Homo sapiens: one gene and its partners. The protein of the gene in region 6 purifies or fractionates together with the protein of the main gene of each other region. This does not show direct contact. Each region holds a gene or a part of one and is shown on either strand. Other genes may lie near its edges. The genes, in order: NOP58, PRP4K, RPRD1A, HP1BP3, ARCN1, ARHGEF10L and DDX50.

Region 1 (4,270 bases), on a different chromosome or scaffold from region 6:
TGGTGAAACCCCATCTCTATTAAAAATACAAAAATTAGCCAGGCATGGTGGTGCACACCTGTAGTCCCAGCTACTCTGGAGGGCTGAGGCAGAAGAATCACTTGAACACAGGAGGTGGAGGTTGTAGTGAGCCGAGATCGTGCTACTGCATTCCAGCCTGGGTGACAGAGCAAGATTCCGTCGCAAAAAATTTAAAAAAAAAAGAATAAAAAATAACACTTCAACCATTTTCAAGTGTACTATTCAGTAGCATTAAGTATTCTTATGATGTTATGCAACCATTACCAGGATCTATTGCCAGAGCAATTTTATCATCAGAAACTGAAAAATTCTGTACCCATTAAACAGTAACTCATTCCCACCTTCCCCCCAACCTCTAGTTATCTTTATACTTCTGTCTCTGAGTTCACCTATTTTAGGTACTTCATATAAGCAGAATCATGCAGTATTTTGTGACTATTTCACTTAGCATATTTTCAAGGTTTATCATGTTGAAATATGTATCAGAATTTCATTTCTTTTTAAGGCTGACTAACATTCCACTGTGTGAAGTGGCTGGGTGTACGTTACCCAAAATGCTTGGGACCAGAAGTATTTCAGAGTATTTGCAAACACGTATGAGGCTGAGGATGGAACTCGAAGTCTAAATAGGAAATGCATCTACATTTCACATATACCTTATATACAAAACCTTGAAGGTAATTTTACACAATATTTTAAATAATTTTGTGCATAAAACAAAGTTTTGACGTGTGGTCAGGTGTGGAGTTTTCCACTTGTGGATTTGTGTGGTACCACAAAAAGTTTTAGATTTCAGAGCATTTTGAATTTCAGATTAGGGACATTCAAGCTGCATCCACAATGCAGTTTATCCATTCATCTGTTAAAAGGTATCTGGGTTGTTTCCACTGTTTGGTTTTGTAAATAACACTGTTATGAACATAGGTGTACAAGCAACTCAGTTCTGTTTTTAATTCTTTTGGGTATAAATCTAGGAAAGGAATCGCTGGTTGAGCGCTTTTTTTTTTCTTTTTTTGGAGACAGAGTCTAACTCCATCACCCAGGATGGAGTGCAGTGGTGCGATCTCAGCTCACTGCAACCTCTGCTTCCTGGGTTCAAGTGATTCTCCTTCCTCAGCCTCCTAAGTGGCTGGGACTATAGGCACACGCCACCTCGACTGGCTACTTTTTTGTATTTTTAGTAAAGACAGGGTTTCGCCATGTTAGCCAGGCTGCTCTCAAACTCCCGAGCTCAGGCAATTCACCCGCCTTGGCCTCCCAATGTGCTAGGATTACAGGTGTGAGCCACTGCGCCCAGCCGAATACTTTGTTTTTTTTTTTGAGACGGAGTGTTGCTCATGTTGTCCAAGCTAGAGTGAAATGGTGCGATCTCGGCCCACTGCAACCTCCGCCTCTCAGGTTCAAGTGATTCTCCTGCCTCAGCCTCCTGAATAGCTGAGATTACAGGCGCCTACCATCATGCTCAGATAATTTTTTTATTTTTTACTAAAGATCGGGTTTCACCATGTTGGCCTGATCTCGAACTCCTGACCTCAGGTGATCCACCAGCCTCTGCCTCCCAAAGTGTTGGGATTACAGGCGTGAGCCACGGCCGAATGCATTTCTAAAATAGAAAAACGATTAAGATTTTGATTTTTTTTTTTTTTTTTTAGTGAGATGGAGATTTGCTCTTGTTGCCCAGGCTGGAGTGCAATGGCACGATCAACTCACTACAACCTCTGCCTCCAGGGTTCAAGTGATTCTCCTGCCTCAGCCTCCCGAGTAGCTGAGATTACAGGCATGCACCACCATGCCTGGTTAATTTTGTATTTTTAGTAGAGACGGGATTTCTCCATGTTGGTCAGGCTGGTCTCAAATTCCCGACCTCAGGTGATCCTCCCGCCTCAGCCTCTCAAAGTGCTGGGATTACAGGCATGAGCCACTGTGCCTGGCAGCTTTTGAGCTTTCTAAAAACCATTTAATGACACAGCAGAATACACAACTACAAAGATTGCACTTATGTTTTTAACATTTTCATGGAAAAATACAAATGAATTAATTAACGTAATGTTAATTCTGTGATTCATATAATCTCCAAATAGTCAACCTCCGCCTCCTGGGTTCAAGCAATTATCCTGCCTCAGCCTCCTGAGTAGCTGGGATTATAGGTACACGCCACCATGCACATTTAATTTTTTTTGTATTTTTAGTAAAGACAGAGTTTTGTCATGTTGGCCAAGCTGGTCTTGAACTCCTGACCTCAGGTGATCCGCCTGCCTCAGCCTCCCAAGTGCTGGGATTAAAGGCTTGAGCCACCACACCTGGCCTCCTTTCTCTTTCTCAACAGACAGAATCATAAAAGATAGTTTCAACAGTATGAAAACGCATGAAGGACAGAGCAACAAATCGGACTTTGCATGTACTATACTTACAAATTGCCTGAACAATCATTGTGTCTACTTTATCAGCGCTAAACTTCAATCTATATCGAGACAGGCTGGGAAGAAAGGGGAAAATAAATTAGCAAGATAGCATCTAGGAAAAGCATTTAAATTAACACCTTAAAGTTTTTTTTTGTTTTTGTTTTTACTCAAATCAGCCTGTAGTCAGAGCTGTAATTGGTTTTTCTAAGAAGAAAAATCAGCTAAGTAGAAATGCACCATACGAGAACAGAAAATACACATTAAAAAAAAAAACTATATGTGCTGCTACGACCTTTATTTCTGTAACATGAATGAGTTTATGTATGAATGACAAATAGGATAAGCTGTGTAATACAAAAGTCATATTGGACTGGGCGTGGTGGCTCACGCTTGTAATCCTAGCACTTTGGGAGGCCGAGGTGGGCAGATCACCTGTTAGGAGTTCGAGACCAACCTGGCCAACATGGCGAAACCCTGTCTCTACTAAAAATATAAAAATTAGCCAGGCATGGTGGGGCACGCCTGAATCTCAGCTACTCTGGAGGCTGAGGCAGGAGAATCGCTTGAACCGGGGAGGCAGAGGTTGCAGTGAGCCGAGATCACGTGCCACTGTACTCCAGCCTGGGCAACAAAGCAAGACTCCGCCTCAAAAAAAAAAAAAAAAAAAAAGCCATATTGGTTCATGCAATTTTTAATAGCACATATTAAGCTTTATACTACCAGTTAGGAACTTTGCAGGACTCTTAACATCTGAAAACAGAAAGCTGTGGAGTAACAATATTGTCTGTATAAAAATGTTTTTTCATCTCAGCACAATTAATATTTTGGGCCTAATTCCTTGTTGTACAGGCTGCCCTGTGCATTATAGGACCTTTAGCAGTATCCCTAACTTTTATCCACCAGATACTCATGGCAGACCCCAACCCACCTCCAATTGTGACAACCAAAAATGTCTATGGACATAGACAAATGCCTACTGGGGGGACATCTGATTGCCCTTGATAGGGAACCACTGCTATACACAATGCAGATTTACCCAGGTTTGGATTTTTGACTCAGTTTCACTATTTGTTCTCTCTTAGAAATGCTTATTACAAAGCTCTCCCTAACCTTTGTGCATTTTTGCTCTTAACTCTAGCTTAGCAGCTTCAACCCTTTCAATCTATGCCCACCTTTTAATTTTAAAATAGACCTTTTTAAATTGTAGTGTTTCTTTTTTGTTTTGTTTTGAGACGGAGTCTTACTCTGTCACCCAGGCTGGAGTGCAGTGGAGCAATCTCCACTCACTGCAAGCTCCACCTCCCGGGTTCACGCCATTCTCCTGCCTCAGCCTCCCGAGTAGCTGGGACTACAGGCGCCCGCCACCATGCCTGGCTAATTTTTTTGTATTTTTAGTAGAGACGGGGTTTCACTGTGTTAACCAGGATGGTCTCGATCTCCTGACCTCATGATTCACCTGCCTCAGCCTCGCAAAGTGCTGGGATGTATTACAGGCGTGAGCCACTGCGCCTGGCCTATAGTGTTTCTTTCTCCCTTTTTTTTTTTTTTTTTTGAGATGGAGTCTCACTCTGTCACCCAGGCTGGACTGCAGTGGAGCGATCTCCACTCACTGCAAGCTCTGCCTCCCGGGTTCACGCCATTCTCCTGCCTCAGCCTCCCAAGTAGCTGGGACTACAGGCGCCCGCCACTGTGCCCGGCTAATTTTTTGTATTTTTAGTAGAGACGAGGTTTCACCGTGGTCTCGATCTCCTGACCTTGTGATCTGCCTGCCTTGGCCTCCCAAAGTGTTGGGATTACAGGCGTGAGCCACCGTGCCCAGCCTGTAGTGTTTCTTTTAATATTAGCTT
Region 2 (3,862 bases), on a different chromosome or scaffold from region 6:
TTACCAGTTTATTAATAATTAGGATCCTAATTATTTCAAAAAATCCTACAAATATTGTCAGCTTTCAGTGTAGTGAGATTATTCCTGTAGGTTATGGGGTATAATTCAGGATTTAACTAATGTTTCTGCTATTTTCTCACTTTTCCTTTTGATGGTGCGGAAAGAGAAAAAGGAAAACGGGGCACAGGCCATTCGACGCCTTCTCCAAGGGGTCTGATTTGCTGAGACACCAGCTTCACCTTCTTAACAAGGTTATTTCTGACAGCATGTGTAGATAAACATTTAGCAACAATTTAAGACAAAATCGTTTAAATCAGCTTGGTTTTGCAACACAAAGGAATTTGTATTATTAACATGGTAGAAGAGAATTTTTCAGAAATATATGTAATCTTTGCTGTTTGGGGGGTAAAATTAATGCTTGTCTCCCTGAGGAATATGGAAAATAATCAGATTTTAGGGGTTTAAATAATATTTTTAAATTGTAAATGGGATTTTTTTATTCACCCAGGCACCTAATTACAACAAGCATGCACATTTTGGTGCATTCAAGAATGGAAAATCAGAATAGCAGCATTGATTCTTCTGGTGGGTTTTGCTCCATTTAAAGACATGAAATGAACTACAGCCAGGAAGGTGATAGATGATATAATAAGCCACCTCTGAACCTACACCCCGTCTCTTCACGGTTTAGACTTACTAAAATAAATACAAGGTGATTTTCATCTTCAGGTAGAGTGAAGCCTTTTAATTAAGGCGTCACAGGTGCAGCTATTCTACCTTAATGAAATGGGTAGTGATTTTCCCACCATTATTTATTTCGGTGATAATATGCTGCATATTCAAGTCTCTTGTAGTTATTTTCACCCAAAGTAGTTGACAATTTGATGCTTCTGGTGATGTTTATGGCTTCATTTTATGTAATTTTTTAAGTAAGTTCCACTAGAAACAGTTCATCTTATACCTTCAAAACTGTTACCTGTTCTTTAAAAAACAAAGTTGCTTGTTACTTGTTCTTTGTGTTTTAGGTGCAGCTCAGTGGAAGATGATGACAACCAGAAGACATGAGCTAAGGTTTCTGTCCTATAAAAGATTTATTAAAAAACAATCCTTCATTTATTTTTTGTCTAATTTTTTAGTTTTCAGCATTATGATTTGGGTTTTATTGGTGTTTGGTATTTAGAATTAGTGCTGTTGTGGAGTGCGTCTGTAAAGTGCTTGTTTTATCATACTTCCTGCCTCTCCCCTCCCCCAGTTTCTCCTCCCCTAAAATAAAAATAGTGGTCAACTTTAGTAATATAAAAGGCTGCTGGATGCTGAGATTCCACATAACACATGGTTGTCAAAATTGGATGTTAAGGATTCTTAGAAAAACAGCAACCACCAGAATAGCATATATCTGAAAGTAGTCTTCAGCTTTAGGCAGATGCAAAAGAATACAAACTGGAATATTAAGAATACTGTTCAACTCCTTTAGTATCTGTTCCCCAACTTACCCTGTAGAAACCTCGTTATTAACCAGTGTTCCAGTCTTAAAGTAGACAAAATATTCAGAGCCATTTTTTTTAAGGGAAATGAAAAAGATACTCTGGGTTTTTTATACTCCCCAATTTAGCATATCTAGACTACCTATTTGAAAGGAACCCTATCAACTGTCTTATGTACGTTACATGATTTTCCTACACTCTGTAATTTTGCTGAGGTGCAATTTGGAACTCTGCAAGACCTACTAGATTGAATTTATTTAGTGAATGCTCCTGAATAAATGTGCATTCCTCTTTTAGAGTAGCTGTATGCTTTTCAAATGCTATCTGCCGTGAATTTTTTGCTTTTATTATACTTTATGGCAAAAGTGATATCAAGTGATTGTCAGACTTGAGGGCTCATAGAAGTGTTAGGTACGGCTCTCAAAGATGTTACAGTTTTTTCTAGGGTTGGGAGAATAGTTGAGATCTGGAAAGCATAGACATTTTTTACACTCTGGATAGACTTTATTCTTGAAGATCATCAGAAATGAGGTTGGAATTTCGAGGTTTTGAGCAGGGGGAGCATCTTATATTCACCCTTAAATCGTTATTAATACATCCTGTTTTCTTCATTCCCTGATAGCTATCTCATTTCACTCTACTGTCTCAAAATTTTGTTTTAAAATAATAGAAATGTTTTGCCATTATTAAGTACCACTTTATTCCTAACAAAAATAAGTACTCAGGACTTTTTTTTCAAAATGAAATATTTATGTACTGTTTTATGGTATGTGGTAGAGTAAGTAAAATGTAATGTTCTCAGTTTTGTTCCATATTTGCATTCCTCTTATGCTTTACCTGTATTTTATCATTTGTAAGCAGAACTCTAGCTATATGGGGTAGAAATAAAATCTCTGAGATGAAACAAAGGAATCAACATGATAAAATTTAGGCGAAGTAGTTAAGAAATGGCCCTTTTGAATGTTGAAGATAGGAAAGAAAGCCATATATTCAAATATGTAATTTTCCTCATTTAGTTATAATGACATCTTTACCAATTGGGCTTCATAAATGTGTTTCTTTCTTAATAGTATCCTAGTTCCAGCATATATTCAACATGAATTTTATCATTCTCCTCCTAATGGAATGTCTTCCTTATAGAAATGTTCACGACAAATTCATTTGTGTTTTTTACATGTCAATAATGTATGCTAAATTAAAATGTTTTCCAGTTATTCTGATAGATGTCATTATGGCATCCTTAATTTTTCTTCTCCTTCTGTATATAGGGTAAGGGACTGTTCTGAAGAACCTTTCCATTTAGTGATCAAGATATGGAAGCTGATTTCTGAAAATGCTCAGTGTGTACTCTAATTATTTATGGTACCATTTGAATTGTAACTTGCATTTTAGCAGTGCATGTTTCTAATTGACTTACTGGGAAACTGAATAAAATATGCCTCTTATTATCATATTGTCTCCTGGTTTTTTTCTTTGGTTGAGTTCAGATTTTCCTCACAAACATCAAAACATTTTCAAAGCATTAGGTGCACAACACCAAAGAGTGTATTATATTCGTGTTCCTGTTACATACATTTCTGCTTTGGTTTTCCTAGTAAAGGAAACAGATAAGTAATGAGCCAACTCCTGTTTTTATAATGATAAAAATAAATTGGTTCATTGCTCACATGATAGCTTGACAAATCTTGGGCTCTTATCCTCAGTATACCCACTCTTTATTTTCTTCTTTTAAGGAACTGTTTTTGGCTTTTCAAAACAGTGAGTAAAATAGATTCACAGTGTAGTTTGTGAATCTTAGTGCATGCAAAGCAGATAAGGCAGGCAGAATGGCCTTGTAGAATGCACCCACCCACCCCATTGGAGCTAACCACCGCAGAGTGGCAGGTAGAAGCTAGTATGCTTGATTCTGGGCTGAGAAATGGTCAAATGGCACTGGCTCTGGATAGTCTTCATGTAAAGGCCCCAGTTATAATTTTGTTAGACTGCATAACTATCTAAAGTGGCTATGAGGTTATTGTATCTGGTACATTTTAGGGAAAATAGTATGCAGGATGTATTGGTTAAGGACCTTTCACACATACTTTTTTTCTTTCTTTTTTTCTTTTTTTTGAGACGGACTCGCCGTCTATCGCCAGGCTGGAGTGCAGTGGCACGATCACAGCTCGCCTCCGCCTCCTGACCTCAGGTGATCCACACGCCTGAGCCTCCCAAAGTGCTGGGATTACAGGCATGAGCCACCACACCCGGCCACACATACTTTCTCTAATTAGAAAGATTCAACCTCATGAAGATCCAGTGAGCTGAGGACCATCAATGACTGGAGAGCTAAACATGGGTATTTATCAGCAAACTAGGTTTTCCCGAACAGAATTTATATG
Region 3 (4,270 bases), on a different chromosome or scaffold from region 6:
AGGCCCAAACGCTCTTCAATTCTATGAAGCCTGAGGGAGGTAAAGAAGCTACAGAAGCAAAGTTTGAAAGTAGCAGAGGTTGGTTTATGGAAAGAAGCTGTCTCCGTAACTTCGAAGTGCAGAGTGAAGCAGCAAGGGCTGAACTAAGAACTGCAGCAAGTTACCCAGAGGCTCTAGCTAAGGTCGTTGATGACGGTGGCTACACTAAACAACAGATTTTCCATGTAGAAAAAAGAGCCTGGTACTGGAAGAAGATGCCACCTGGGACTTTCATAGCTAGAGAGAAATAAATGCCTGCCTTCAAAGCTTCAACAAACAAGCTGGCCCTCATTAGGAGCTAAAGTAGCTGACGACTTTAAGTAGAGGCCAATGTTCATTTACCATTCTGAATAATTCTAGAGTCCTTAAGAATTATGCTAAATTTACTCTGCCTGTGCTCTATAAAAGAAACAAGTATAGATGACAATACATCTATTTACAGCATAGTTTACTGAGTATTTTAAGCCAACTGTTGAGACCTGCAAAATATTACTATTGGCCAGATGTAGTGATTCCCACCTGTAGTCACAGCACTTTGGGAGGCCCAGGTGGGAGGACTGCTTGACCCAAGAGTTCAAGACTAGCCTGGGCAACACAGCAAGAACTCTTCTTTACAAAACATTTAAAAATTAGCCAGGCATGGTGGCACACACCTGCAGTCCTAGCTACTTTGGAAGCTGAAGCAGGAAGATAACTTGTACTCATGAGTTCGAGGTTACAGTGAGCTGTGATTGCATGACTACTCCAGCCTGGGTGACAGAACAAGAGACTGTCTCCAAAATAACAATAATAAAAAATTACTATTGACAACATACCTGGTCACCCAAGAGCTCTGATGAAGATGTACAATGTGACTAGTGTTCATGCCTGCTAACACGTGTTCTGCCACTTATAGATAAAAGAGCAATTTTGACATTCAAGTCTCACTATTTAAGAAATACATTTCGTAAGGCTATATAGCTGCCATAGTCATTCCTGTGATGAATATCGGCAAAGTAACTGAAAACTTTCAGAAAATGATTCACAATTCTAGATGGCATTAAAAACATTCATGATTCATGGGAGGAGATAAAATATCAACATTAACAGGAGTTTGGAAGAAGTTTACTCCAATTCTCATGGCTGACTTTGTGGGGTTCAAGACTTCAGTGGTGAAAATAACTGTAGATCTGCTGCAAATAGCAAGAGAACGAGACACAGAAGTGGAGCCTGAAGATGTGACTGAACTGCTCCAATCTCATAAAACTTGTTGGTGAGGAGTTGCTTCTTATGGATGGGCAAATAAAGTGGTTTCCTGAGATGGAATCTACTCCCAGTGGAGATGAAATGACAACAAAGGATTTACTTGATAAAGCAGTAGCAGGGCTTGAGAAAATTGCTTCTAATTTTGAAAGCAGTTCTGCTGTAGGCAAAATGCTATCAAATGTACTGCATCCTACAGAGAAATCTTTCAAGAAAGAAGTCAACTGATGCAGCAAACTTTATCACTGTGTTAATAAACTGCCATAGCCACATCCTTCAGCAATCACCACCCTAATCAGTCAACAGCCATCAATATCAAGGCAAGACCCTCCACCAGCAAAGACTATGACTAACAGAAGGCTCAGATGATTAGTCTTTTTTAGCAATGAAGCATTTTTAACTAAGATACGTACATTTTTTATATGTAATTTTATATGTAATCCTAATGCTTAGACAACAGTAAAGTGTAATTGTAATACTTAGACAACAGTAAAGTTGTAAACATAACTTTTGTATGTACTAGGAAACAATGTCAAAGTCAAAATGTCATTTTAATTCTCCTATTCATGTATGCCTTCCAAGATAATAAGCTAACTGAAAAACAGTTTATGCAATACTTTCAACTTCATAATGGTAAAATGATTCCTATAGCAATCCCTAAATATTATAAATGTAAACTAAAGTTATTAATAGTCTATTTTAACAGTTATCTCGTGTGTGTGTGTGCACGCGCACGCGCGTGATGGAGTCTCGGTCTGTCGCCCAGTCTGGAGGGCAGTGGTGTGATCTCAGCTCACTGCAACCTCCACCTCCCAGGTTCAAGTGATCCTGCTGCCTCAGCCTCCCAAGTAGCTGGGACTACAGGCACCCACCACCACACCTGGTTAATTTTTTTTTTTTTTTTTTTTTAAGTAGAGATGGGGTTTCACCATGTCAGCCAGGCTGGTCTTGAACTCCTGACCTCAAGTGATTCACCCAGCTCAGCTTCCCAAAGTGCTGAGATTACAGGCGTGAACCACCACACCCGGCCCAACAGTTATCTGCTTCTGCTTAGTAACCAACTATAGTCAGAAGTTTCAAAAATAATGATTGTCTTAAAACACAAATTTTAAACCACTTCATGTTTTCATTCATTACACATGCTTTAATAATGGCTTCCTTAAGAAATATGAAATGGCCAATTCCCGAACTGATACTTTAAATTTATGTTCCATTATCAAAAATGCAGCAACAAATGACACATCAGTATCTGGTCAACCACTGTTAATGTTCAAAGATACACAATAGATGAAAATTACTTGATAGTATCACAGCTGATTCAGAAAACATAAATCTTCACCTCTCAGTCTCAACTTCAAAGTGATGCCACCTACTTGGTACAAAAAAGTCTAAATATCTCAAATCATTTCCACATCTTCTACAAAGGAATAACATAGTTCTAAGTGATAATTTACAAAGAGTTCTGTGGAATAACTTTCAAGTTTATTTCTGTACTTGTAAAGAGTATTTACTTGTTAAAAAACAGCTGAACATAATTGAGGTGATTTCTTCTTTATAATATAAAATCCAGTTATGCAGAAGAACAACAAAAAAAGTTCCTAGAAGGCTTTATTTCAAGACAGTGATTACCTCTGAGAAGAGAGGGAGCAGAAAAAGTTGGAAAAAATAGGACTTTAGCATTTGCTTTAATCTTAGATTTAAGTAAAAACAGGAAGCAATGTGTCTTTTTGATGAAGTGCACTGGCTCTGGAGGCAGATTCTCTGCGTTCCAAACAACTCACTAGCTCTTTGTGACCTTAGGCAAGTTACTTAATCTTCCTGTGCCTCAGTTCTGTATCTATCAAATGTGGATAATACATCCTGCTGTGTAAGATTAAATGAGTTGCTTATGTGAAGTGCCTAGAATAGTACCTGACACATGAATGTTAACATTATTATTATCATCAGCCTCATAATCTATGACTGTCAACTATGAAATGTGGCTGGAAGGCACTGGGGGAAAAGGGGGTTGTGGGGAGTGGCATCTGATCTATTTTCTACAGTTACACTTCAAATATAAATTCTGTTTTTGTAAACAGTGACAAATGACCATCATCATAAGTGAGAAAGTATAAAGCAGAATAAAGTTACAGTCTTCTCTTCAATTTTCAAAAACATGAGACAATACAGGCTTCAGGGTTTGATATTTATTTTTAGCAGGAAGAATATACTAATGGTGACGACATCGTTAGAAGATACGCCCATGTCCAATATCTGCAACAGAAGCTCAATAGAAGTTAAAGAAACCATACTAAAAGACTAAAGACAAAAATTGTATGACATTACTTACCCTTAATTCTGTGGACAATAAAACAATTAACACTATGTTTAAAATTGAGGTTTCATCACAAGGTGAAATAGTGGCAAGTTAATTATCAAATTCATCTTTTAAAAAAAAAAACCATCTTTTCCTTTCCATGTAGAAGTGGGCAACCTCTTCAAAGGTATAGTGGCCACCAACTATCATCATCTGAGGGTATTTATACGAGCAGAGAAGGAGTAAATTGCAAAGGAGTAGTGCTAACTTGAGAGCTGGGAATTTGAGGTGGGAATAATTAAGTAGCAGCTCCCATGGGTAGCAATGGCAATCTAATCTAAGCACCATTTTTGGCACAATTAGAGACTGCTGAATCAATAACTAAACACTAATAAAAATAACTTAATGGGGTAGTACCATGACATTCCTACAAATTTACAGTGAGCTTTCTGTAAATAAAGGGATTCAAATTAGAAATTCTCCTACATATTATTACAATAAGAAATTGCCACAGCAATACAATTTAAACAAGAACTCATCAACTGAAAGATTTTTTTTACATAAAACCAAATCTGGCTCATGTATCCCTAACAATTGCTACTCTAATCAAAGGAAATACGAGCATTTTTTAAAATCACCTCCTGTACTCCCAGATTTCTCATTAGCGGTATTAATTATTACTTAATTTACAGG
Region 4 (3,500 bases), 3.1 Mb from region 6:
CGTATTTTGAACATACATATAAAGTTATGCCAAATCTATAAAAGTCCTGCACCATACCTAATTCTATACCCACTATTTAATAAAATTAATCCATAGTCATTTATTTAGTAAACAATTACTTAAACTCCTAATATGTATCTGGCACTGTATTAGCCAATGAGTACACAGCAATGAACAGTCTGCATGGAATACACACTTCAGCCTCATAATACTGGCAAAAGACCTCCAAGTCTTAAAAAAAAAGACCTCAAAGGCCTAAATCTGTTCAAAGCTTCAAAGGTATTCGGCAAGGATCTCCTAAACTCTTTTTTGTCCTTGGTGGTATGAACCTTGATTCCTTTGATTAACATATCCTTAAATGATAACATACATACATATATGTGTGTGTGTGTGTGTGTGTGTGTGTGTGTGTGTGTGTGTTTCTTGCCTTTTTCAGACACAGGGTCTTGCTATGCTGCCCAGGCTGGAATCAAACTCCTAGGCTCAAGGGATCCTCCCACCTCACCTTCCCAAGTAGTTAGGACTACAGGTGCATCCCACCACACCTGGCAGAATGTAACATTTTGTGTGTGTGTGACTTTGGGAATTAAATTTAATGTTTAATGTTCGAAAAATTTATATAATATGTATTAAGCCAAGTAACACTTATGTTTGTACAGAAATAATAATATAAGAAAGTTACACAATAGTCTTGCTAAAACAGGGTCTTAGTGGTATATGTTATGTACTTTACTGGAAATCAAAAGGCTTTAAACCCAGTGCATGAAACAATGCTTGGACCACAGGAGGTGATCAATATATTTTTTTGTTTCAAAGAATAAATAAGGTATTTGCAAGAAACAAATTTTCAGATAAGTGTTCCTGTCTCTACAGTATGGAGGTAGAGTTAAGATTCTTGAAAACAGTCAATGTTCTCCCCACTTGGTATTGGACAATTAAAACTTATGCATATAATCCCATCACTTTGGGAGGCTGAGGCGAGAGGACTGCTTGAGCCAGGAGTTCAAGGCCAGCCTAGATAATATGGTAAGACCCCCATCTCTACAAAAAACACAAAAATTAGCTGGGTGTGGTGGCGCGCACCTGTAGTCCCAGCTACGTGGGATATTGAGGTGGGAGGATCACTTGAGCCCAGGAGGCGGAGATTGCAGTGAGCCGAGATTATACCACTGCTCCAGCCTGGGCGATAGAGTGAGACCCTGTCTCAAAAAACAAAAACAAAAACTTATACATAATCCTCTAAGAATCTGTCATTATCATTTACTTGATAAAGAAGGAATGAACATCAAAATGACCATCCGAGGATCTCAAATAATCTTATGCCTGGCTAAAATCACTATTTTTATACAAAACCTTTTACTCCAAAATAATACTGCCTTAAAAGTCATCTTTATTTTCAAATACAGTTGTCCCTTGAACAACACAGGTTGGCAACGCATTAGCCCACTTTATATGTGGACTTTTTTTTTTCAACCAGACACAGATCAGAAATACAACATCCACAGGATGCGAAGCCTGCATACAAAGAGGACAGACTTTTCAGATACATGGATTCCACAGGGCTGAGTACATGCGCATTTGGGTATGCGGGCAGTTCTGTAACCAATCCCCTATATGTAACAAAGGACGACTGTATTTCCAGTTCACTAAAACAGTAATAAGGGTAAAATAAATTAAACTGAGTGTGTAACTTAGACTATAAATTTACAGTGATCTATTATAGGCTAAGTACTTACCTGGGATAATAGGGAAAACAGAGCTGGAAGGTGCCACTGAACCCTTTCCCAGAGATCTGTTCCATCCACCCATTCTTTTCGCATTTCTGCAGGGTTTTTTTCAGCAAATGCACTGAAAAAAAAAATTCAGAAATGAAAGTTATCTAGTTATTCAGATTAGATAATTCCCTCAACCACAAACAGATGCCCATCAATTTAATATCCTGTCACATACGGTAATTGACATACACTAAGTGAATCCTATGTGTTCAAAGGTATTTAATTAAACATTTACTTATTGCCCATAAGTTTGGCAAGAGTTAAATTATATACATACATACATACATATATCTATATTTTAAAATTTTGCAAAATATAGAGACAAAGTCTCACTATGTTGCCCAGGCTGGTCTCAAACTCCTGGGCTCAAGCAATACTCCCACCTTGGCTTCCCAGACTGCTGGGACTCCAGGCATGAGCCACCATACCTGGCAAGAGTTATAATGAAAAGACACATTAGAGACCATTGAGTCAAATACCTTATTTCACAGGGAAAAAAAAAAAGCCCAGAGTGGTTAAGTGACTTGAGCTCAAAGTAGTTAAGTGACTTGCTCTAAGGTAGCACATAAACAGCAGACCTAAAACTAAGTATTTAATTATTTCCATTCACTTAAACATCTATTGTGTACCTATAGGTATTGATAATCATCTAGGAGAATCTCTTATAAAGATGAACAGAACTAATTATTCATAAATCAGTAAACAGTAACAAAACAATATCATGGTTCCTGAAGTCCTTCATTCTCATCTTTCTTACAGAGACATATCCAAAATATATTTTATGGTGATTCAGTATCCAAAAAACAGCTGCAAATATCAGTGAAACTGAAAGGCTTGTTAACCAAATTCATCTTCTCTTAAAACATCTGGCATATAGAAATAGGCCGGGCGTGGCGGCTCACGCCTGTAATCCCAGCACTTTGGGAGGCCGAGGCCGGCAGATCACGAGGTAAGGAGATTGAGATCATCTTGGCTAATACGGTGAAACCCTGTCTCTACTAAAAACAAATAATACAAAAACAAAAAAATTAGCCAGGGGTGGTGGCAGGTGCCTGTAGTCCCAGCTACTCAGGGGGTGGAGGTAGGAGAATGGCGTGAACCCAGGGGAGGCGGAGCTTGCAGTGAGCCAAGATCGCACCACTGCGCCCCCCAGCCTGGGCAACACAGCGAGACTCCGTCTAAAAAAAAAAAAAGACTTCAAAATTACCTTTTAATTACAATAATATATTCTGGATTGTCTTCTTCTGTTACTTAATTTCCATATCCCTCACCCTACAACATTGTGCCTCTTCTAATAGTTCATTGAGAAGTCACCCAGTCTCACCAATCCACACGATAATGCTGATAAGGCAGGGTGTCTCATCTCAAATCACCACCTCCTAGAGTAAATATACTTTACTGAAATAAAGTATTGTCTGTTGTGGGGCTTAGGTTAATAAGAAATAATATAAGTAGTAAGTACTCTAAAATCCTGGCTTTGTTTCAAAGTAAAATTAGATGTTTTTGGTGAACATTCAAAAGTAGGAAAAAATACACTATAATTTAGAGTTGCTTTGAACCTAGAGATTTATCTAAATTACAATAAATATCAGAAAAATCTTTACAGTAAAAGCAACTTCTTATAAGCAGATGCTTTAAATTAAGAATTCAGTTTTGATTATTTGTTTTTCTTTTTGTAAATATGAAATTTGTAAAGCTGTTCCCTCTTGGTTTTCAGTCAGTAGT
Region 5 (4,270 bases), on a different chromosome or scaffold from region 6:
AAAAGTTAGCTGGATGTGGTGGCATGTGCCTATAGTCCTAGTCCCAGCTACTAAAGAGGCTGAGGCAGGAGGATGGCTTGAGTCCAGGAGTTTGATGCTGCAGTGAGCTATGATTGCCCCACTGCACTCCAGCCTGGGCAACAGAAGAAGACCTTGTCTCTAAAACAATAACAACAACAAAACTACAATGGTTTCAAAATGAAAGCTATTAAAAATGAAAACTAATGATAAAAATATACAAAATGCAGCACCAGGTCCATTTCAAAAGAAAGTCATTTTGTCAGAAAGAACTTTGCTATGGTAATAAAAATAAAAGTGTACCAGCAAGGGCTATTTCTAGTTCTCAATGCAAACTAGCTTAGTGGGACTGGCCAGAGGCACTTACTTGTCAGTGGAATAAAAGATTCCTCTGTGGTTTGTAGTCTCCACTTTAGCACCCCTACGTCACTGTTGACTGGAAATGACTTCTCTGGATTCTTCAGGCCAATTAGAGACTCTGCAGTGAAAAGTTTTTTATCCACATTTGGATGGGTCTAGAATGAGAGGGAAAGGAAAACTCCTGAGGTTCAGATAGACGAGAAACAACCCCTCACTAGGCTTATATGGCCCACAATCTAAACATCCAAAATAGAGTACCTAACAAATTCCAATTCTTTTTCATTTTGAAGAAAGATTTCCCTTCTTCAAAGACTTATTTTAAAATGATTTAAGATACTTAAAAACTAGTAATTTTTTAAAAAAAAAGCTAATTTCAACTCTAAAAGCCATTACAGAACAAGTTTGCACCTGAAAAAGTTAAAAGACTATTAACCAAGTTCTTTCCAAAAATACTTCACAGGGAGCAGGTTCATGGTGGGGCCAGGTTTGCCAAGCAGAAGGCTCCAGTAAGACCCTGATCAGCTGCCTGGGTCAGACAGCAGTTCTGGCCTTATATAAAGTAGCAGAAAAGGGCAAGCTCTGTGTAAAGTCTAGTTGCAATTTTGCCTAGAGACTTAAAGTTGTTAAAATCCAAGCCAATTAAGATAGTCTTATCTTTTTAAAAGAAATTGCTTTTGGGGAGGCTGAGGTGAGAGGGGCATTGAAGGTCAGGAGTTTGACATCAGCCTGGCCAACATGGCAAAACCCTATCTCTATTAAAAATACAAAAGTTAGCTGGGGCTGGACATGGTGGCGCACGCCTGTAATCCCACCTACTCGAGAGGCTGAGGCAGGAGAATGGCTTGAACCCGGGAGGCAGAGGTTGCGGTGAGCCGAGATCACACCATTGCACTCCAACCTGGGCAGGAAGAGTGAAACTCCGTCTCAAAAAATAAAAAATAAATAAATAAATAAATAAATAAATAGCTGGGTGTGGTGGTGCACACCTATAGTTCCAGCTACTATGGAGGCTGAAGAGGAAGCATTGCTTGAGCCTAGGAGGTTAAGGCTGCAGCGAGCCAAGGTTGTGCTGCTGCACTCCAGCCCGCATGACAGAGAGAGACTGTGCAAAAACAAAAAAAAAAACAAAAAAAAGAACAAAAAAACAAGACAAAAACAAAAAAAACCCAGAAGGGCTGGGCATGGTGGCTCATGACTACAATCCCAACACTTTGGGATGATGAGGTGGGCGAATCATGAGGTCAAGAGTTCGAGACCAGCTTGGCCAACATGGTGAAACCCCATCTTTACTAAAAATAAAAAAAATTAGCTGGGCATGGTGGCAGGTGCCTGTAATCCCAGCTACTCAGCAGGCTGAGGCAGGAGAACTGCTTCAACTGGGGAGGCAGAAGTTGCAGTGAACCAAGATCGTACCACAGAACTCCAGCTTGGGCAACAGAGAGAGACTCCATCTCAGGAAAACAAAACAAAACAAAACAAAACAGAAATCACTTTTGGATAGCACTTTACAAGCCAGCAAAAATGTCAAATAATATAAGCACTGCTTCCAAAAGACAATTCTGTGCTGACTACGGTGGGGAAAGTAGACAAAAACACTCTTCCGTAAAAAGGCTTTGTTCTTGTGACGAGATGTCGGCTAAATGAAATGAAATTACAAGAACACCTGTAACATAAAGCAGGGCTTATATATATCTATCCAATAGTTGGAACACACACACTTATATTGAAAGGATTTTATGTACTTTTCAAATACACCATTAGATACTGCCCTTCAGTTAACAAAACAAGCACTGGCAGTTTATTTAATAGCAGAATGAGTAAATTTCGCATTGTGCCACCACGCCTGGCTAATTTTTTAAGTTTTTGTAGAGATAGGGTCTTGTTGCTCAGCCCTCATTGCTCAGGCTGTTCTTGAACTCCTGGGCTCAAGCGATCCTTCAGCCTCAGCCTCTCAGAGTGCTGGTATTATAGGCATGAGCCACCACACTTGGCCTAAAGCCTTGTTTTTTTAAAACTGTATTTCAAGCAAGATCCTAAGTGATTAATTTACTGTTTTCATAACAGCAAAAGACAAACACCTCCTTGTACCTTTTATTGGTGAGTATGAAGTCATTTATTAGATTTCGAAATGACCTTTTATTCAATTCCAATATTTAAAAGCCATCCTTACACAGCTGCTTTACTCACTCTCAGGTAGCTACTGTATGCAATATATTAACTTCTTTCCTAAGCGTTTAGAGTGATGCTAGTTATATAACTTAAGTAATTTTCTGTGGTTCATATTGGGAACTCTAGTTGAGAAAGACTATAATAGGTAGACAAAGTGTTAATACTCCCTATCAAAAGCTTCTACACACCTGTAGCTGCACCCCTTTCTTATCTTCATTTTCCACATGAAGACGAATTCGGCCATACTTGTCATCTGAGATCCTAAGCATGATCATGCCATGCAACTCCATATTCTGTAATCCTCCGTCTCGTCCACAGGTTAATGTTATCTTTTCTTCAATCTTCATATGTACACTATAAAGAGAAAGTAATACATTTGTTCAGAAAGGTAGAAACCAATGGCCGGGCGTGGTGGCTCATGCCTATAACCCCAGCACTTTGGGAGGCCAAGGCGGGCAGATCACCTGAGGTGGGGAGTTCGAGACCAGCCTGACCAACATGGAGAAACCCCGTCTCTACTAAAAATACAAAATTAGCCAGGCGTGGTGGTGCATGCCTGTAGTCCCAGCTACTTGGGAGGCTAAGGCAGGAGAATCGCTTGAACCACGAGGCAGAGGCTGTGGTGAGCCGAGATTGTCCCACTGCACTCCAGCCTGGGCAACAAGAGTGAAACTCTGTCTCAAAAAATAAAAAAGAAAAGAAAAGAAAAAAGAAAGGTAGAAATCAGAACTCCCTTTCTCCAAGGTCTAATGATTAGCCATCAACAACGTTTTTTTAAAGGTGCTACTGCTATAGCTATCAACATTTAAAAGGCGATACCCTTTGATACAGCAATTCTTCAACAGACTCTATCCTACAGATAAATTCTCACCTGTGCAAAACAATCTGCTAAGTTATTCACTGAAGAATTGTTTGTAATGGCAAAAGTTTAGAAACATGTCTGCCAATAGGGGGCTGCTCAAATAAAGGCATATTCACGGGCGTGGTGGCTCACGCCTGTAATCCCAGCACTTTGGGAGGCCAAGGCGGGTAGATCACGAGGTCAGAAGATCGAGACCATCCTGGCTAACATGGTGAAACCCCACCTCTACTAAAAATACAAAAACAAAATTAGCCGGGTGTGGTGACGGGCGCCTACTCAGGAGGCTGAGGTGGGAGAATGACGTGAACTCAGGAGGCGGAGCTTGCAGTGAGCCGAGATGGTGCCACTGCACTCCAGCCTGGGCAACAGAGTGAGACTCTGTCTCAAAAAAATAAAAAATAAAAAATAAAGGCATATCCACCCGAATGAATAGTAGGCAATGGTGAGAAAACAAACAACTGAAAAAACTTTCTATTTGTAAGTATTTTCAAGCTTAAAAAAATTAAAATTATACAAGGAAGACATATATACCCTTTTCCAGATTCACCTATTGTTAATATTTACCTCATTTGTTTTATAATTTGCACTTGTGTTTCTCTCTCTCTAAACATTATATATGTATGTTATACATTTGATTTTTTTTCCCTGAACCATTAAGAAGCAGATTATATACAACACGGCACTTTACCCCTAAATACTTCAGTGCTTATTTTATAAGATTAGGGATATTCTCTTACATAATCAATCACAGTACCATTATTAACTTCACAAATTTACACTGATAGTTTTTTTAGCTTTTTGTTGTTGTTGTTTTGAGATAGAGTTTCACTCTTCTTGCCCAGGCTGGAGTGCAATGGCGTG
Region 6 (4,270 bases):
AGCAGAATGGATGGGGATCGAGACTGGGCTTTGGAGTCAGGCCACACAGGGTCTGCGGCCCAGATCTGCCCCTTCCTTCTGTGTGACCTCAGGCAAGTCCCCGCACATCTCTGGGCCTCAGAATCCTCAATGGAAAAAGAGATTCTCAACAGACCTAACTCTTAAGGCTACTGTGAATGTGAAATGAAAAAGATGCACAAAAAATACTCAGAAAAGTGCATGTAAATATCCATTTATGTATCTGTATTCATACCATGGGGTGCACAGGAAGAAAAACATAGTAACGAGGTCTTTGGTCTTTGAGAATCAGTATAGTCCAACCTGCATCATTTTTCTGGGTAACAGCTTTATTGAGATACAATCCAGTTACCATAAAACGCATCCTTTTAAAGTGCACACGCCACTGATTTTTGGTGTAGTCACAGAGTTGAGCAATCACCACCATCTAATTTTAGAACATTTTCATCACCTCCACCAAAACCCCTAGCAGTCTAGCAGTCATTCTCCATTATCCTCTCCTCTCAGGTCCCTGGCAACCACTAATTTACTTTCTGTCAAGTTCCATCAATTCCTGGATGGGGAAGCTGAGGCTCAGAGAGGGGAAGTGACTTGTCCAGGGTCACAAAGCAGAGCCTCCGGCTCTGGCCCCAGCTGTTTCTCCACCGCACCACCTCCCTCCCACTCAGAAGCCTCCCTGCCCCCCGCTGACCCCGAACACCCATCCTGTACCCTCACTCACCCCAAACCTCCCCGTTCCACACCCCTGCCCCCTGAGGCACTCTCCCTGGGGCTATACTCACGGAGTCCGATTTTGGCCAAATGTAACCTGTTGACCCAGGAAATCTTGCTCAGGGGGTTGGGGGTGATGAAAACCACCATGAAGCTAATGGGGCGGCCGGACCTGTGGTGAGAAGGGTTAGAGTGGATGTGTGAGTACCCACACAAGGGCCAGGCTCCCCCAGCTGTCACGTAGTACTTCCTCCAACCCACGCGCCCTGGAGATCAAGGAGGTCTGGTCAGAGCATCCCCAAAACGTGGCCAAAGAGGTCAGTGGCTTGGCAAAGCCTCGGTCCCCTGGGGGAGGAATCCCTCCGCCCACAATGACCCCCAGAGGGAGGTACCTGGCCAGGGTGGCTGAGCCACGCTCCCCAGCCTGGCTCCAGGAGCCTCTGGCTTTGTGCCCGGCAGAGCCTCTGCAGGCTGTGACTCCACCTGGTCAGCGGTCAGCTGTCCACAGGTCTTAGACACCTTACATGTCTGACCACGTGCCTCTAGAGGGAGGAATGGGTCTCACTTGGGTCTGTTCCCAGCACCTGGCATGGGACAGTTGCTCAGTAAATGTTTGCTGAGTGGACACAGGAATGAATGAAGAAATGAATGAATCAGGTTAAGCACCAGCTTGGGGCAACCAGAGGTTGCTGTTGTCACCACGCTGTCCTCTCACCTCAGAGCAGTGGGGGCCTTCCCAGCCCTTTGGGAGGTGGGCAGGGCAGTGTCACAAGCCTCTAGGGTGCACGTGGAGAATGAGAGGCAGAGAGAAGGGAGATGGAGGAAGGGAGACGGACAGGCCACTCAACAGGGAGGCGGCAGATTCAAAGCTGCTGACTCCTACACATGGTCCCCTGGGGGACTGAGCCCATGGTCCTACCTCAAATGATAGTGCTCCAACCTTCTCTTCCTTGCAGCCACTGTGCTTGTGACACTCTATCCCCACCTTCACCCCACCCTGGAGGCCAAAACCTGGGCATTGAGCCCCCTCATTGCACTGGCCTGGGCTTCAGAGTCAGACCTCATCAGGACCCAGCTCTGTCTCTCACGATGTGGCCTTCAGCCTCTCCTGAAACTCTGAGCCTCACCTTCCTCATCTGTAAAATGGAAATAAAAAGACCCAACTTACAAAGCCTCAGGAGGACCAGAAAGATCCCGTTCCCTGTCTCTGCCAGGCCGAGCAGCTATGGCTGTCATCAGTTCCACAAACCTCAGTTGGGGTCTACTGTGCACAGCTCCTGTGGTGGGCATTCTGGGGCTAAGGTGGTGCTGGGGGGAGGCTGGGTCCAGAGAGAGGAAACCCAGGGCCTGGCCTGGGGGCCTAGATAGGCTGAAGTGACTGAAAAGGACACAGCGCAAATGGAACTGACCAATGGCAGAGTGTCTGAGTATCCTAACAGTGGGCCAGGCTTATCCAGGACATGACCAGGCTGTTCATTAATTCATTCATTCATTCCACAGTCTTTTCATGAGCACCTACTGCGTGCCAGATGCTATCCCAGACATGGCCCACGATGCCTACATATCCACTCCCACCATGGCATCTCGACAAATAAGAGGGCTCCAGGTACCCTCTCCGGATCCCCTGCTCCACTGGAAGCCCAGCAGAGGCAGCAGCCCTCCCTCCAAGACCCCCTCCTCTCACTTGTCGGGTTTCCCAGGAAGCAGGAGCCTGAGACGGCACTTGTTGGCCGAGTGGATCTCTTCCTCCTTCACCCGCATCAGCCTCTGCAGGGCCAGGCACCAGTCTTGAGCCACAGTCATGTTCAGGTTCTAGGGTTCAGGAGGCCAATGAGGTCACCACACAGCACACTGGCTCCCCAAAAGCCACACCAGATCCTATAGGAATCACAGCACCCCAGAGGAAGAGAAACTGAAGAAGTCCTGGAGCCTCACTGAGGCTGCACATTTAGCCCCACGCAGGAGGCCAACTCGCCATGCCCCAGGCTTCCCAGCCCTGGGCTCAGATCCCACCTGGAGCCCTCCTCTGAGAGGGACATGCCGTCGCAGCCAGCTTCCCCTCCACACTGGGTAGAGGCCCAGGAGGGGCCACATAACGGAATGGCCACTGTGCAGAGAACAAACAAAGGCCCCACAGCCAGGCTCCACTCAACCCAAACCAGAGGATGCGCCCGAACCAGCGGCCGCAAAAGAGACTTCCAGGCAGGGACATGGAGCTTCAGCAGCGACAGTTGCCAACAGGAGCTCAGAAGCTAGGAGCACATCGGGGACATGGGCCAGGAGAGGAGCCCCTCCCTACTCAGCTTTCTGAATCCAGGCACTGCCCACACTGGGGAGCTCAGGCCAAAAAGGTCAGGCCAGGCCACGTACCTGGTAGGTGCCGTGCAGCGTGCTGATGAGAAGCGTGATCTGCTCCACCACGGCCAGGTCCTTCTGCAGGTCCTGCAGCTCCTGGAAGAGGCGTGGGGGGCCGAGGTACACCTTATCTGGGCAGAGAAGAGACCAACTCAGGCACAGGTGAAGGCGCTAACAAGAAGCCAAGCATCTGCTCACAACAAAAAAGATCCAGAGGCTGGGCGCGGTGGCTCACGCCTGTAATCCCAGCACTTTGGGAGGCCGAGGCAGGCAGATCACGAGGTCAGGAGATCGAGACCATCCTGGCTAATACGGTGAAACCCCGTCTGTACTAAAAAATACAAAGAAAAAAATTAGCCGGGCATGGTGGCGGGCACCTGTAGTACCAGCTACTCAGGAGGCTGAGGCAGGAGAATGACGTGAACCTGGGAGGCGGAGCTTGCAGTGAGCCGAGATCACGCCACTGCACTCCAGCCTGGGTGACAGAGCAAGACTCCAACCCAAAAAAAAAAGAAAGAGTTCCAGAAAGTAACATCCAGTTCCTACCCTGACCAGAGCGCCCAGACTAGCTGGGAAGCCAGATCCTTTCAAGAGTAAAGTCTAACACCTGAGATCCAGGCCATAGTCAGTCTGTACAAAGGGCTGTATGAGACCACAAGACCAAGAGCAAGCTGTGCCTGGGAGAGAGGAGGGGCCTGCATAGGGCTGGAAGTGTGGTGGGCACTGCCAGGAGAGAAAGACAAGAGCGTGTGCAAAGGCACTGTGGCTTGAGGCAGCCCATGAACAGCAAGTTGTTCAAAGACATCCTGAGGACCTATCGTGTGCCAGACTCCATGCTAGAGACTGGAGACAGCAGTACACAAGACAGACAGGGTCCTCATTCTTCCGGAGCTTATGACCTTGGCAGGACAAGTGGCGGAGGAAGCAGTCAGTTAACAATGGTGGGTGGTAGGAGGTGGTGGGGAGAAAGATATCAGTGTGGTGGGACAGTGATGGGGTGAGGGGGCCCAGATCACCAGTGATGATACAGATGGAGTAAGGGTGAGATGGGGGTAGGGGGTGGCAGGTAGAGATAGAGCAGGAGGGTCCAGGAGGACCAGATGGGGAAGGCCTTGAACGCTAGGCCCCTGGGCTAGGAATTTGGACTGTATTCTCTAGGCCGTGGTTTTGCACACTGAGGTCTTAT
Region 7 (3,500 bases), on a different chromosome or scaffold from region 6:
ACAGAGCAAGACTCTGTGTCAAAACAAAAACAAAAACAAAAACAAAAAAGATAAAACTGATCTTTTAATCTGCTAGGGCTATGAAATCTTTAAATGCAAGAAATAGAAATTCAACGAACTATTAAAATATTAATTTAGGAATTAATTGTAAAGACTTCCATTTTTCTTTAATGTAACTCTTTCATTTTCAGGGAATTACTTTTAAACGTGTAGGTGTTCCTTCTACAATGGATTTAGTTAAATCTAAAAGCATGGATGCCATCAGGTATGCTTTCTGAACTTGCTGAATAATTGTTTCTTTTGTATTAGGCTATTCATCTGTAAGCTCTCCCAGTTCAAATAGCAGAAAATTTTACCACCAGTTTTACCAGCAGACATTTAGTTATATTAAAATATAAAACAGTGGCTCATGCCTGTAATTCCAGCACTTTGGGAGGCTGAGGCGGGCAGCTCATGAGGTCAGGAGATTGAGACCATCCTGGCTAACACGGTGAAACCCTATCTCTACTAAAAAAATACAAAAAATTAGCCAGGCGTGGTGGTGGGCGCCTGTAGTCCCAGCTACTTGGGAGGCTGGAGCAGGAGAATGGTGTGAACCTGGGGGGCGGAGCTTGCAGGGAATCGAGAGTGCACCACTGCATTCCAGCCTGGGCGACAGAGCAAGACTCTGTCTCAAAAAAAAAAAAAAAAAAAAAAAAAAAATATATATATATATATATATATATATATATATATAAAATGTGGCTGGGCACTGTGGTGCACGCCTGTAATTCCAGCACTTCGGGAGGCTGAGGTGGGCAGATTGCTTGAGCTTAGGAGTTTGAGACTAGCTTGGCCAACATGGCGAAACCTTGTCTCTACAAAAAATACAAAGATTAGCCAGGAGTGGTGGCGCGTGCACCTGTAGTCCCAGCTACTTGGAAGGCTGAGGTGGGAGGATTGCTTGAGCCCGGGAGGTTGAGGCTGCAGTGAGCCAAGATCGTGCCAGTGCGCTCCAGACTGGGTGACAGAGCAAGGCTCTATCTCAAAAAAAAAAAATTACTCCTTCTTTTTCCCATTTTTCTTCTTATCTTTTATTTTTTCCCTATGTCTTGACCAAGAATACTATTTTTAAACCATAGGTCTCTGGCTTCCGTTTCTTACGCTGCTGTTGATTTTTTCCGACCATCAGCTCAGAGACTGATAGAAGAGAAAGGTGCAGTGGATGCATTGGCTGCAGCTTTAGCCCACATTTCTGGTGCATCAAGCTTTGAACCACGATCTTTGATCACCTCTGATAAGGTAGAAATCTGTGAGAAAATTGTACATGAGTGGGAAAAGGTTAAAATTGAACATAGGAAATATTGTAGTGAATTATTGTGCTTTTTGTGCAGAAAAAAACTGTTTTGCTCTATGAGAAACTGGTCTCCTTATTTTCCTCTACTCCCTAATAAATCCTTTTTTGACAATCACCTCTTCCAAATTTTTCAAACCCACAGAAAAACTGAAAGAATAATGCAGTAACCACATACGATCCACCTAGATTCAACTGTTAAAAGTCTGTATCATGTGCTTTATATCCTTTTTTAGCTCTAATTTGTAATTAAAAAAAAAATGACATGTAATAATTGTACATATTTATAGGGTATGTGGTGATGTTTCAGTACATCCGTACATACCATGTATAGGTATCAGATCAGGATCATTAGCGTATCCATCGTCTAAACATTTATCATTTCTTTGTTTTAGGAACCATTCAATATCTTCCTTCTTGCTTTATAACTTTATAAGTTTTTTTTTTTTTTTTTTTGAGATTGAGTCTTGTTCTGTTACCCAGGCTGGAGTGCAATTACGTGATCTTGGTTCACTGCAACCTCTCCCTCCCGGGTTCAAGCAATTCTCCTGTCTCACCCTCCTGAGTAGCTGGGACTACAGGCGCACGCCACCATGCCTGGCTAATTTTTGTATTTTTAGTAGAGACAGGGTTTCACCATATTGGTCAGGCTGGTCTCAAACTCCTGACCTCAGGTGATCTGCCCTCCTCAGCCTCCCAAAGTGCTGGGATTACAGGCGTGAGCCACCTCACCCGGCCTGTATTTTTTTTCTAAATCATTTGAAAGTAAGTCGAAACACCGTGATATCATCCCTAAATATTTCAACATGCATCCTCTGAGAATAAGGATATTCTGCTACATAACCACAATATAATAAGCTCATCTGTGAAAATTAATGATAGTTCTGTATCATCATCTAATATTTAGTTTATATCCATTTTTTTCTCATTATCCTGAAAATGTCTGTCTGTCTGGGTATTTGGAGAGAAATATAGGAAATGCTCACTTTGCACAGACCTTTGTTAACTGAAACTTGTATCCCAGAACCTACATTTCATTTTGTAAGTTTCCATGGAATCCTGCAAAGTAAGAAATAGACTCTGCACAATTAACACAGTAGCATGCAAAGTAAGTAAGAAATGCCTGTGTGTGTGTGGAGGGGTTGTGTAAGTGTAACACCATCTGAACTGGCCTGCTGCCAGATTCGTATCACATGTCAAAACATACCACACCAGAACCATTGGTGCAGGTAGCTCAGAGATTTTTTACTTATTCAAGTATAAGTGAGGGGAGTTTCTTGGTGAAGAGAATTTTAAATAAGAGTTCTGTTATGTCTGAGTGGAGAGAGTGAGTGAGCGAACCTGGTCCTGGAGACATCTATAAGACTAGAGCCTGCTGGTGGGATTTTCAAATAATAACAAAACAGACTAATTTGGGCAGCACATCCCTGTGATGGGGAGGAGGAAACAAAAAGGGCAGGGCAGGTTCACTTGGATGTGACTTATTTGGTGTAGCACAAATGAATGCTGCTGGGGTATCTGATGGTTTCTACCTGGTAGGTGTTAATAGTTTAGCTAAATGTCATTTTGCTTTGAGTGACTTATTGGGCTCCATTCCGTTTATCCATATGTGTACATATACCTATTTGTATGTATGTTTTTAAAAATTCAGGACCTAGTTAAGTTTTACATGTTACATTTGGTATTATGTCTCTTTAGTCTCTTTTAGTCTGGAACTGTTTTCTCATCTTTTTAATTTTTTTCTGATATTGATTTGGTGAAGAGTCTTGGTCGGTTGTTTGGTAGAATATCTCACTGTCTGGATTTGTCCGAATCTCTTCAAGCATCATTTAACTTTTGCCTTTATCCTCTTTTAAACTGAAAGTAATATCAAAGCTTGACTTTTATATTTAGGTGAAATGTTTTTGGCAAGGGTACTTTATAGTTAATATGTACCTCATATTGCATCACATCAAGAGGCATAAAATGTTAGGTTGTTCCAGTACTAGTAATGCTTAATTTGCATTTGTTTAAGATGGAAACTGCCATATTGTAAAGGTGTATTTTACTCTCTGTAATTAGTAACTTGTGGGGTGATACTTTAGCATTGAGCAGATATCCTATCCCTAGTAACCCACCAAATGCTTAAGACAGTATTTAAAACATATTTCTTTAGAAAATATTGAGA

Evidence for each region.
Region 1: the proteins of ARHGEF10L (region 6) and NOP58 purify together in Homo sapiens (affinity purification with mass spectrometry, with the first as the bait; one large-scale study listed by BioGRID). This does not show direct contact.
Region 2: the proteins of ARHGEF10L (region 6) and PRP4K purify together in Homo sapiens (affinity purification with mass spectrometry, with the first as the bait; one large-scale study listed by BioGRID). This does not show direct contact.
Region 3: the proteins of ARHGEF10L (region 6) and RPRD1A purify together in Homo sapiens (affinity purification with mass spectrometry, with the first as the bait; one large-scale study listed by BioGRID). This does not show direct contact.
Region 4: the proteins of ARHGEF10L (region 6) and HP1BP3 purify together in Homo sapiens (affinity purification with mass spectrometry, with the first as the bait; one large-scale study listed by BioGRID). This does not show direct contact.
Region 5: the proteins of ARHGEF10L (region 6) and ARCN1 purify together in Homo sapiens (affinity purification with mass spectrometry; one large-scale study listed by BioGRID and IntAct). This does not show direct contact.
Region 7: the proteins of ARHGEF10L (region 6) and DDX50 purify together in Homo sapiens (affinity purification with mass spectrometry, with the first as the bait; one large-scale study listed by BioGRID). This does not show direct contact.

What each region holds. Positions count from the first base shown.
Region 1 is NC_000002.12:202,285,887-202,290,156, reverse strand, and holds part of NOP58 (nucleolar protein 58), read right to left. Parts: intron 2,498-4,270; coding exon 2,433-2,497; intron 1-2,432. UniProt on the Homo sapiens protein: Required for the biogenesis of box C/D snoRNAs such as U3, U8 and U14 snoRNAs. Part of the small subunit (SSU) processome, first precursor of the small eukaryotic ribosomal subunit.
Region 2 is NC_000006.12:4,062,049-4,065,910, forward strand, and holds the end of PRP4K (serine/threonine-protein kinase PRP4 homolog), read left to right. Parts: 3' UTR 1-2,935; downstream 2,936-3,862. UniProt on the Homo sapiens protein: Serine/threonine kinase involved in spliceosomal assembly as well as mitosis and signaling regulation. Connects chromatin mediated regulation of transcription and pre-mRNA splicing.
Region 3 is NC_000018.10:36,022,145-36,026,414, forward strand, and holds part of RPRD1A (regulation of nuclear pre-mRNA domain-containing protein 1A), read right to left. Parts: intron 3,535-4,270; coding exon of another isoform or gene 3,454-3,534; exon of another isoform or gene 2,742-3,453; intron 1-2,741. UniProt on the Homo sapiens protein: Interacts with phosphorylated C-terminal heptapeptide repeat domain (CTD) of the largest RNA polymerase II subunit POLR2A, and participates in dephosphorylation of the CTD by RPAP2.
Region 4 is NC_000001.11:20,745,808-20,749,307, forward strand, and holds part of HP1BP3 (heterochromatin protein 1-binding protein 3), read right to left. Parts: intron 1,849-3,500; coding exon 1,737-1,848; intron 1-1,736. UniProt on the Homo sapiens protein: Component of heterochromatin that maintains heterochromatin integrity during G1/S progression and regulates the duration of G1 phase to critically influence cell proliferative capacity.
Region 5 is NC_000011.10:118,588,972-118,593,241, reverse strand, and holds part of ARCN1 (coatomer subunit delta), read right to left. Parts: intron 2,902-4,270; coding exon 2,736-2,901; intron 534-2,735; coding exon 386-533; intron 1-385. UniProt on the Homo sapiens protein: Component of the coatomer, a cytosolic protein complex that binds to dilysine motifs and reversibly associates with Golgi non-clathrin-coated vesicles, which further mediate biosynthetic protein transport from the ER, via the Golgi up to the trans Golgi network.
Region 6 is NC_000001.11:17,636,833-17,641,102, reverse strand, and holds part of ARHGEF10L (rho guanine nucleotide exchange factor 10-like protein), read right to left. Parts: intron 3,216-4,270; coding exon 3,100-3,215; intron 2,542-3,099; coding exon 2,414-2,541; intron 1,866-2,413; coding exon of another isoform or gene 1,862-1,865; exon of another isoform or gene 1,272-1,861; coding exon of another isoform or gene 1,250-1,271; exon of another isoform or gene 1,122-1,249; intron 902-1,121; coding exon 801-901; intron 1-800.
Region 7 is NC_000010.11:68,935,815-68,939,314, forward strand, and holds part of DDX50 (ATP-dependent RNA helicase DDX50), read left to right. Parts: intron 1-191; coding exon 192-265; intron 266-1,121; coding exon 1,122-1,281; intron 1,282-3,500. UniProt on the Homo sapiens protein: ATP-dependent RNA helicase that may play a role in various aspects of RNA metabolism including pre-mRNA splicing or ribosomal RNA production.